Homo sapiens: one gene and its partner. The protein of the gene in region 2 binds, or shares a complex with, the protein of the main gene of each other region. Each region holds a gene or a part of one and is shown on either strand. Other genes may lie near its edges.

Evidence for each region. Proteins that work in one complex are often made in the same cells at the same time.
Region 1: DPM1 (region 2) and DPM3 share a complex: the UniProt entries of both Homo sapiens proteins name them as parts of the dolichol-phosphate mannose (DPM) synthase complex.

What each region holds. Positions count from the first base shown.
Region 1 is NC_000001.11:155,139,353-155,142,178, forward strand, and holds DPM3 (dolichol-phosphate mannosyltransferase subunit 3), read right to left. Parts: upstream 1,180-2,826; 5' UTR 1,139-1,179; intron 1,056-1,138; exon of another isoform or gene 979-1,055; coding exon of another isoform or gene 889-978; coding exon 610-888; 3' UTR 539-609; downstream 1-538. UniProt on the Homo sapiens protein: Stabilizer subunit of the dolichol-phosphate mannose (DPM) synthase complex; tethers catalytic subunit DPM1 to the endoplasmic reticulum.
Region 2 is NC_000020.11:50,951,812-50,955,564, reverse strand, and holds part of DPM1 (dolichol-phosphate mannosyltransferase subunit 1), read left to right. Parts: intron 1-279; coding exon 280-379; intron 380-3,753. UniProt on the Homo sapiens protein: Transfers mannose from GDP-mannose to dolichol monophosphate to form dolichol phosphate mannose (Dol-P-Man) which is the mannosyl donor in pathways leading to N-glycosylation, glycosyl phosphatidylinositol membrane anchoring, and O-mannosylation of proteins; catalytic subunit of the dolichol-phosphate mannose (DPM) synthase complex.

The sequences.
Region 1 (2,826 bases), on a different chromosome or scaffold from region 2:
AAAAAGAAGTAGTACGCCGGGCGCGGTGACTCACACCTGTAATCCCAGCACTTTGGGAGGCCGAGGCGGGCGGATTACGAGGTCAGGAGATCAGACCATCCTGGCCAACACGGTGAAACCCCGACTCTACTAAAAATACAAAAAATTAGCCAGGCGTGGTGGCAGGCGCCTGTAGTCCCAGCTACTCAGGAGGCTGAGGCAGGAGAATGGCGTGAACCCGGGAGGCGGAGCTTGCAGTGAGCCGAGATCACGCCACTGCACTCCAGCCTGGACGACAGAGCAAGGCTCCGTCTCAAAAAAAAAAAAAAAGAAGTACTTCCTACAGGGTTGAAAGGACCAGGAAAGTGAAATGTCATTTCCATCCTGAGAAATATTGAGAAGGGGTCTTTGCCTCCTTGGGAGCAAAAATGGGAACACCAGCAAGATGCAAAGATAAAGGCTGAGATGGCCTCAAGAAGGTGGTTCTTTCACATTCACTTCTCGACCGTTAGTACATAGAATCCCCAATACCCGTTTTCCATACTCAAACTAAACGAAGTTAGAAAATAAACTGGCTCTTTAATGGGAAATGGGAGGAAGGGCTGTCCGCACAGGAATGGGGTTAGGCTGTCAGAAGCGCAGCCCCCTGCGGGCTAAGTCGGCTCGGGCCTCCTGTATCTGGCTCTGCAGCTCGCGTGCGGCGTCCTCGCAGTCATGAAAAGTGGCCACACGATAGCCCACAGTGCCCAGGGCATAGCAGCCGGCGGACACCAGCAAGTAGGCGGGCAGTGGCCACAGGACTTCCTGGCAGGACAAGGGCAGCTCCAGGCCCAAGGCTCCCGTGGTCAGGGCCACCCAGGTGGAGCCCAGGATCGCTAGTCCCCAAAGCCACTGCGCTAATTTCGTCATGGTCACTGCGAGAGAAGGAAGCAATGCTCCCCTGAGGAGCAGAAAGGAAAAGCGGACCAAACTCAACCGAAGCCCGCCCACGGAGAGCATTAAAACCAGCCCTGGCCAGAGGGGAATCGCCGATCCCAGAGGTCCGAACTTGAGTGCCCACAAAAGGTGGAAGGGCCCCTTCCACCTTGCTACCCCCTCTATATTTGAGACCCACTCCCCATCTCTCGCCCTCCCCATTCAGCCTTCAACCTACACTTACCTCTACCCCACGTCTCCCCTTCCCCGCGCGGCCCGGATGTTGGCGTCCGGAAGTCCTCCCTGGTTCACGTTCCGCTTCCGCGCGGCCTTCTGGGAGTTGTAGTTCACATGGCGGCGCCTGGTGTACTCCTGGCCAGCGCCTCAATCTAGGCGGGGGTACAGTGGGCTGTGCTCCGCAAACGGGGAGCAGGCCGGGTCTGGAGAGGCCTCGGCGCTGCTTTCCCACCTTGGGCTACGCTCCAGGCTGGCGTGGGGCTTGAGGACATCCTTAAATGTTGCAACAAGATGGGAATATAATACCATTCCCCTTAAACTCAATTCTCCAGCGCTGAAATCCATTCCTTCATTCACTAGTTCATTCATTCGAAGATTTCTTTCTTTCCATTCTTGACAGGGTCTCTCTATAGTGCCTAGGCGGGACAGAACTCCTTTTTTTTTTTTTTTTTTTTTTTTTTTTTTTTGAGACAAAGTCTCGCTCTGTTGCCCATGCTGGAGTACAGTGGCTCGATCTCAGCTCACTGCAACCTCTGTCTCCCGAGCAGCTGGGATTACAGGCGCGCGCCACCACGCCGGGCTAATTTTTTTATTTTTAGCAGAGAACGGGGATTTCACTATGTTGGCCAGGCTGGTCTCAAACTCCTGACCTCAAGTGACTGGCCCACCTCAGCCTTCCAAAGTGCTAGGATTACAGGCATGAGCCACAGCGCCCGGCCAGAACATTTCTTGATTACCATGATAGACTTTGGAGATACAGAGATGTCAAGAGACTCGACCCCTTTCAGGTGGAGGGGGAAAGCAGGAGTCAGTGAAGCAGTTGCATTGACAACTAACCATGAAGGCTTGAGATTATTGTTAGAACAGAGGTAGTCATATTTTTACAAGGACAACAACCAATATAACTTGGAGCCAGAGGAAGAAGGGCTCCAGGAGTCTGGGTTTCAAAAAAAAAGAAAAGAAAAGAAAGACCAGAAGAATTACCTGAAGTGGTGAAGGCATTGAAAGAAAGAGTATAATTCTTTAGAACAGTTTTGGGGATGAATTTATTATGTATAGAGAGAAAGAGAGAGAGAGAACAAAGTAAGAGAAAAGGTTAGGCAATTATCAACTTCAGAGGAAACAAAGAGTTATATAAGAAAGGAAAGACAATTGATAAGCCTGTCTTATAAAGACCACATCTGTAGTTTGACAGTTAGGTTTATTAACTTGCCACAACAGAGAGATCACACACTAGAAGAACTGTGGGGCAACTCATTAAAAAGGAAGAAATATGGTCATTCAGATGATATGGTTTGGCTGTGTCCCCACCCAAATTTCAAGTTGATGTGTATCTCCCAGAATTCCCACGTGCGAGGGACCTAAGGGGAGGTAATTGAATCACGGGGGCCAGACTTTCCCGTGCTATTTTCATGATAGTGAATAAGTCTCACAAGATCTGATGAGTTCATCAGGGGTTTCTGCTTTTGCTTCTTCCTCATTTTTCTCTTGCCACCGCCATGTAAGAAGTGCCTTTGTCTCCCGCCATGATTCTGAGGCCTCCCCAGCAATGTGGAACTGTAAGTCCAATTAAACCTCTTTTTGTTTGCAGTTTCGGGTATGTCTTTATCAGTAATGTGAAAATGAACTAATACAACAGGATATGGGAAAGGCTTGACTTTAAAATTTATATTTTAAAATTTATTTACTTATTTA
Region 2 (3,753 bases):
CATAGGTCATTACGTGATTTTCTTTTGAACTAAAAAGTTTGTTCTCTGTGTAGGAATTCTTTAATATCTCAGGACATTAGCATGTTTCAGCAACATACTGGGTTTGGAGGTAAAGTACTAAATGTTTGACATTTATTTCATTTGATAATTGAAGTTTTCCTCAACGATTAATATAGCAATACATCTCCATTTATACTTTTAAGGAATTAGTAATTTTTAAATTACTTTTAAATTTGAGAACACTGTCATCAGTCATTAATACAAATTTAATTTTTTTAGTGGAATCAACTATGAAATTATAATCATAGATGATGGAAGCCCAGATGGAACAAGGGATGTTGCTGAACAGTTGGAGAAGATCTATGGGTCAGACAGAATTGTAAGTTATAAGAACATTTTTCTGTGATATGAATTGTGATTATGTAGGGGAAAGATGAGACATGAACAATGCTTAAATTCAATCTATTTGTTTAGAAACTGAAAAGATAAAGAGCAACTTACGCATTTGGGATTTAAATGCATTTTTGTTGTCCGTAAAATTTTACATATCTTTGGTATGTTGGGTCAGTGGTCATTTTACAGCAAAGAGTGAGCTTTTGGATGAACTCTGTTTATAACTAATTCTGCAGATAAATTTTCTTGAAGGGCAAAAATTAAAGCATGATACTGAATTGACAAGGAATATTATATAATTGGGTTATAATTGGTAGTGTGTGTGTGTCTTAATCTTTCTTGCTCCCTTTCGGTAAGTATTCTCATGCTTTCATTAGAGAATACTGCCTGAAATTAAGAGCGTGTAGGTAGAAAAAGTTACTGTTTTCTTGTGAAACATTAATGACTTCTTAGAGTACTTGGCATTTTTAGTCTATAGAATAGTCTTGTGAAAGTAGATTGACTGTATTAGTCCTAAACTTTAGATTCACCCACTGTACCTTGAAACTTGTTATTCTAATATAGAAGTTACTTAGGCAAATATAGAGTTTATTTTATAATGGCTTCATGAATTTTATTTTTGGTTACCGGTTTGTATTTACAAATGTTTATGTATACTCGAGCTCTTTTATAATTTATATTCACAAATTATTGCAGACCACAGTTTTTCAGTCTTGGCACTATTGACGTGTGGACAGATTAATTCTTTACTGTGGGGGTTGTCGTGTTTATTGTAGGATGTTCAGCACCGCATCTGGACTCTTCTCACTAGATGCCACTAGAAACCCCCCTCCCCACTTGGCAACTGCAAATGTTTGGATATTGTGAGATATTTCCTTAGGGGAAAAATTACCCTTTGCCTCCAGTAGAGAACCATTGGTATAGAGAAAGAAGTCCCTTTGAGAACCTTTATTGTTATTTACAGTTCAAGAAATGGTAAATTAATCATTTTAAAAAAAAGCCACTCAGTCTAAATATTCTTGATAAATCTCAGTAATAGAAATACTTTCTACTTAGAGGTGAGTGTCAGTTGTATGAGGTCTTGGTGGCAAGAGTTTAAAGGAACTGTGTTACTACATGGTAAATGTAGTTCTAGGAATTCTTTCAGTCTGTCTCACAGATGAGTAACTCAGGTCTGTCACACCTCAAGTCTTCTCTGAAAACCTTCTAATGGATGGGAATACAGAAAGAGGTAAAAAGTTGACAAATTTTCAGGCTTCTAGCAGAGACTTTCAGTAATGCTAGGTTTGAATTTTTGGCCAGTAGTTCCCTGTTTTCTTTAGAAGCCCAGGGTGAAGGCCACTGATTCACAACACTTTTGAGTTATGTGCTGCCATTTAATCTCGGACCATCAACCAGACAACATTTTGAATACTTTTGTCATAAAACCTCAGCCTTAGGATGTGATTGATTGATTTTAGGGAATGGTTACTAAACTGACCTTTCAAATTTTGGAACAACATTGTCTTCAAAGACATTTTTTCTATCAACCCAATAAAATTCAAAATGAGAAAAAAAGTTGCATTCACTGTTACGATTTCCCTCTACTACCAGATAAAATTCCTTATTCATTCATTATTTTATGACATTTAAATAAGTTAAACTAGAAAATGACTTTTAAAAAAAAACAGTATTAATCCATGCTAGGGATGACACTTGCTTTTAGTGACAGATGTATGTTTCGTTGAGAAAATGAAGGATATTGAAACCATGTTAGAATACCTCAGATAAAGTGTTCACCACAGATGCTTTGTCAGCCTTTCAGACTGGCTGAAATGAATCTTTCAGAAAAGAAGCCAAAGAAGATATTTTTAAAAATTCTGTAGGTGACACAACTGAAGCGAGAGGTTAGGTCATTTTTAATGACCTAACTAGGTAGGACCATAGAGAAATTGGGGGCACTTACTCTGAACTATTCACAGTGCTTACAAGGCAGAGATCTGAAATTGTGAAGGACTTCAACTGCTCTGTGTTGAATGCTTTTATTATGTTTGGTTTATGTAGTTTGTTTCATCTCCCAACTTGAGATCAGATAAAGTCATTTATATTTTGTCATATTTTCTTCCAGCTTTATTGAGGTATAATTGACAAAGTTATATATATTTAAAGTATGAATACCACATTTGGGGAATGAACCTGTCCATCACCTCACGTAGTTACCCTTGGGGGCAAGTTGACAGTGATGAGGACAGTTAAGATCTGCTCTCTGTAAATTTCAACTATATAATATGATACTATTAACTATAGTCACCGTGCTGTGTGGTAGATTCTTAGAACTTTGTCTTACATTTTGTCATTATTTTATAGTTTAGTATTTTAAAAACTTACTCTGATAATAAAATGTAACACGTTTATTATTCTTAAAACATCAAATGTAAGATAAAAAGGTTTGACTACTTGAAAATATTAAACTTCTGTCCATTCCTAAATACCAAAATATTTCTAACAAGATCAGTACCCCAACCAACCAGATAATTCATAAGACCAAAACTAGAAATGGCCAGTAAACAAGAAAAAAATACTGAGCCTCACTGATAAGTGAAGATTTACAAAACAGGAGGAGAGTACATATTAGCCTTATTAGCTGAAGATTTATTTTTATTTTCTCCTTTCTTTTTAACCCAGTGTTTCTGAGAGTATTATAGAACAAGTCCACTCAAATACTGTTGATCCTAGTATAAATTGATACTGTTTTTCTGAAGTATCATCTGGCAGTAATCTCATGACCCTCAAAAATCCTTAATGCCTTTGTAATAAGTATAAAGCAGTTTATAAAACTGTATATGTACTATAGTCTCAATTCTGTTTTTAAGTAACTTTTTTCAAGATTGTCTGTGATAAGTTTTACAAAGGTTCTTGTCAAACAAATTATAGTTTCCCATAAAAGTATTTTATAAGCAGCTGTGGCAAACATGCTTCAAAAAGTATATGCCTGTCATTCTTGCAAGCACTTTATGTGAATCCACTTGCTTGTTCCTCATGAAAGCCAAGTGAGAGGGGGCTTTGTCACGCCTCTTTATATTCTCAAGATCACATGGCAAATGAGTAGTGGCCAGGATTCAAACCCAGGCATTGTGGTTCCAGGGTTCATCTTCCTGTCTGTAATGCTATCCTGCCTCACATAGAAAGGGGCCATCAGATTGATATGAAGAGGCAAAAAAGGATCAGGGGAGGGTGGAGAGGTGGAATTAAGAGTCTGAAAGTAAAGCATACCAAATAGAAATAGTTTGGATTTCCTACATAAGAAATAAACAAGCACATCCTTGTAAAATATAAATGTTACCAGTAAAACCGAAGTTGCCTTTGATGAACATTTTATTT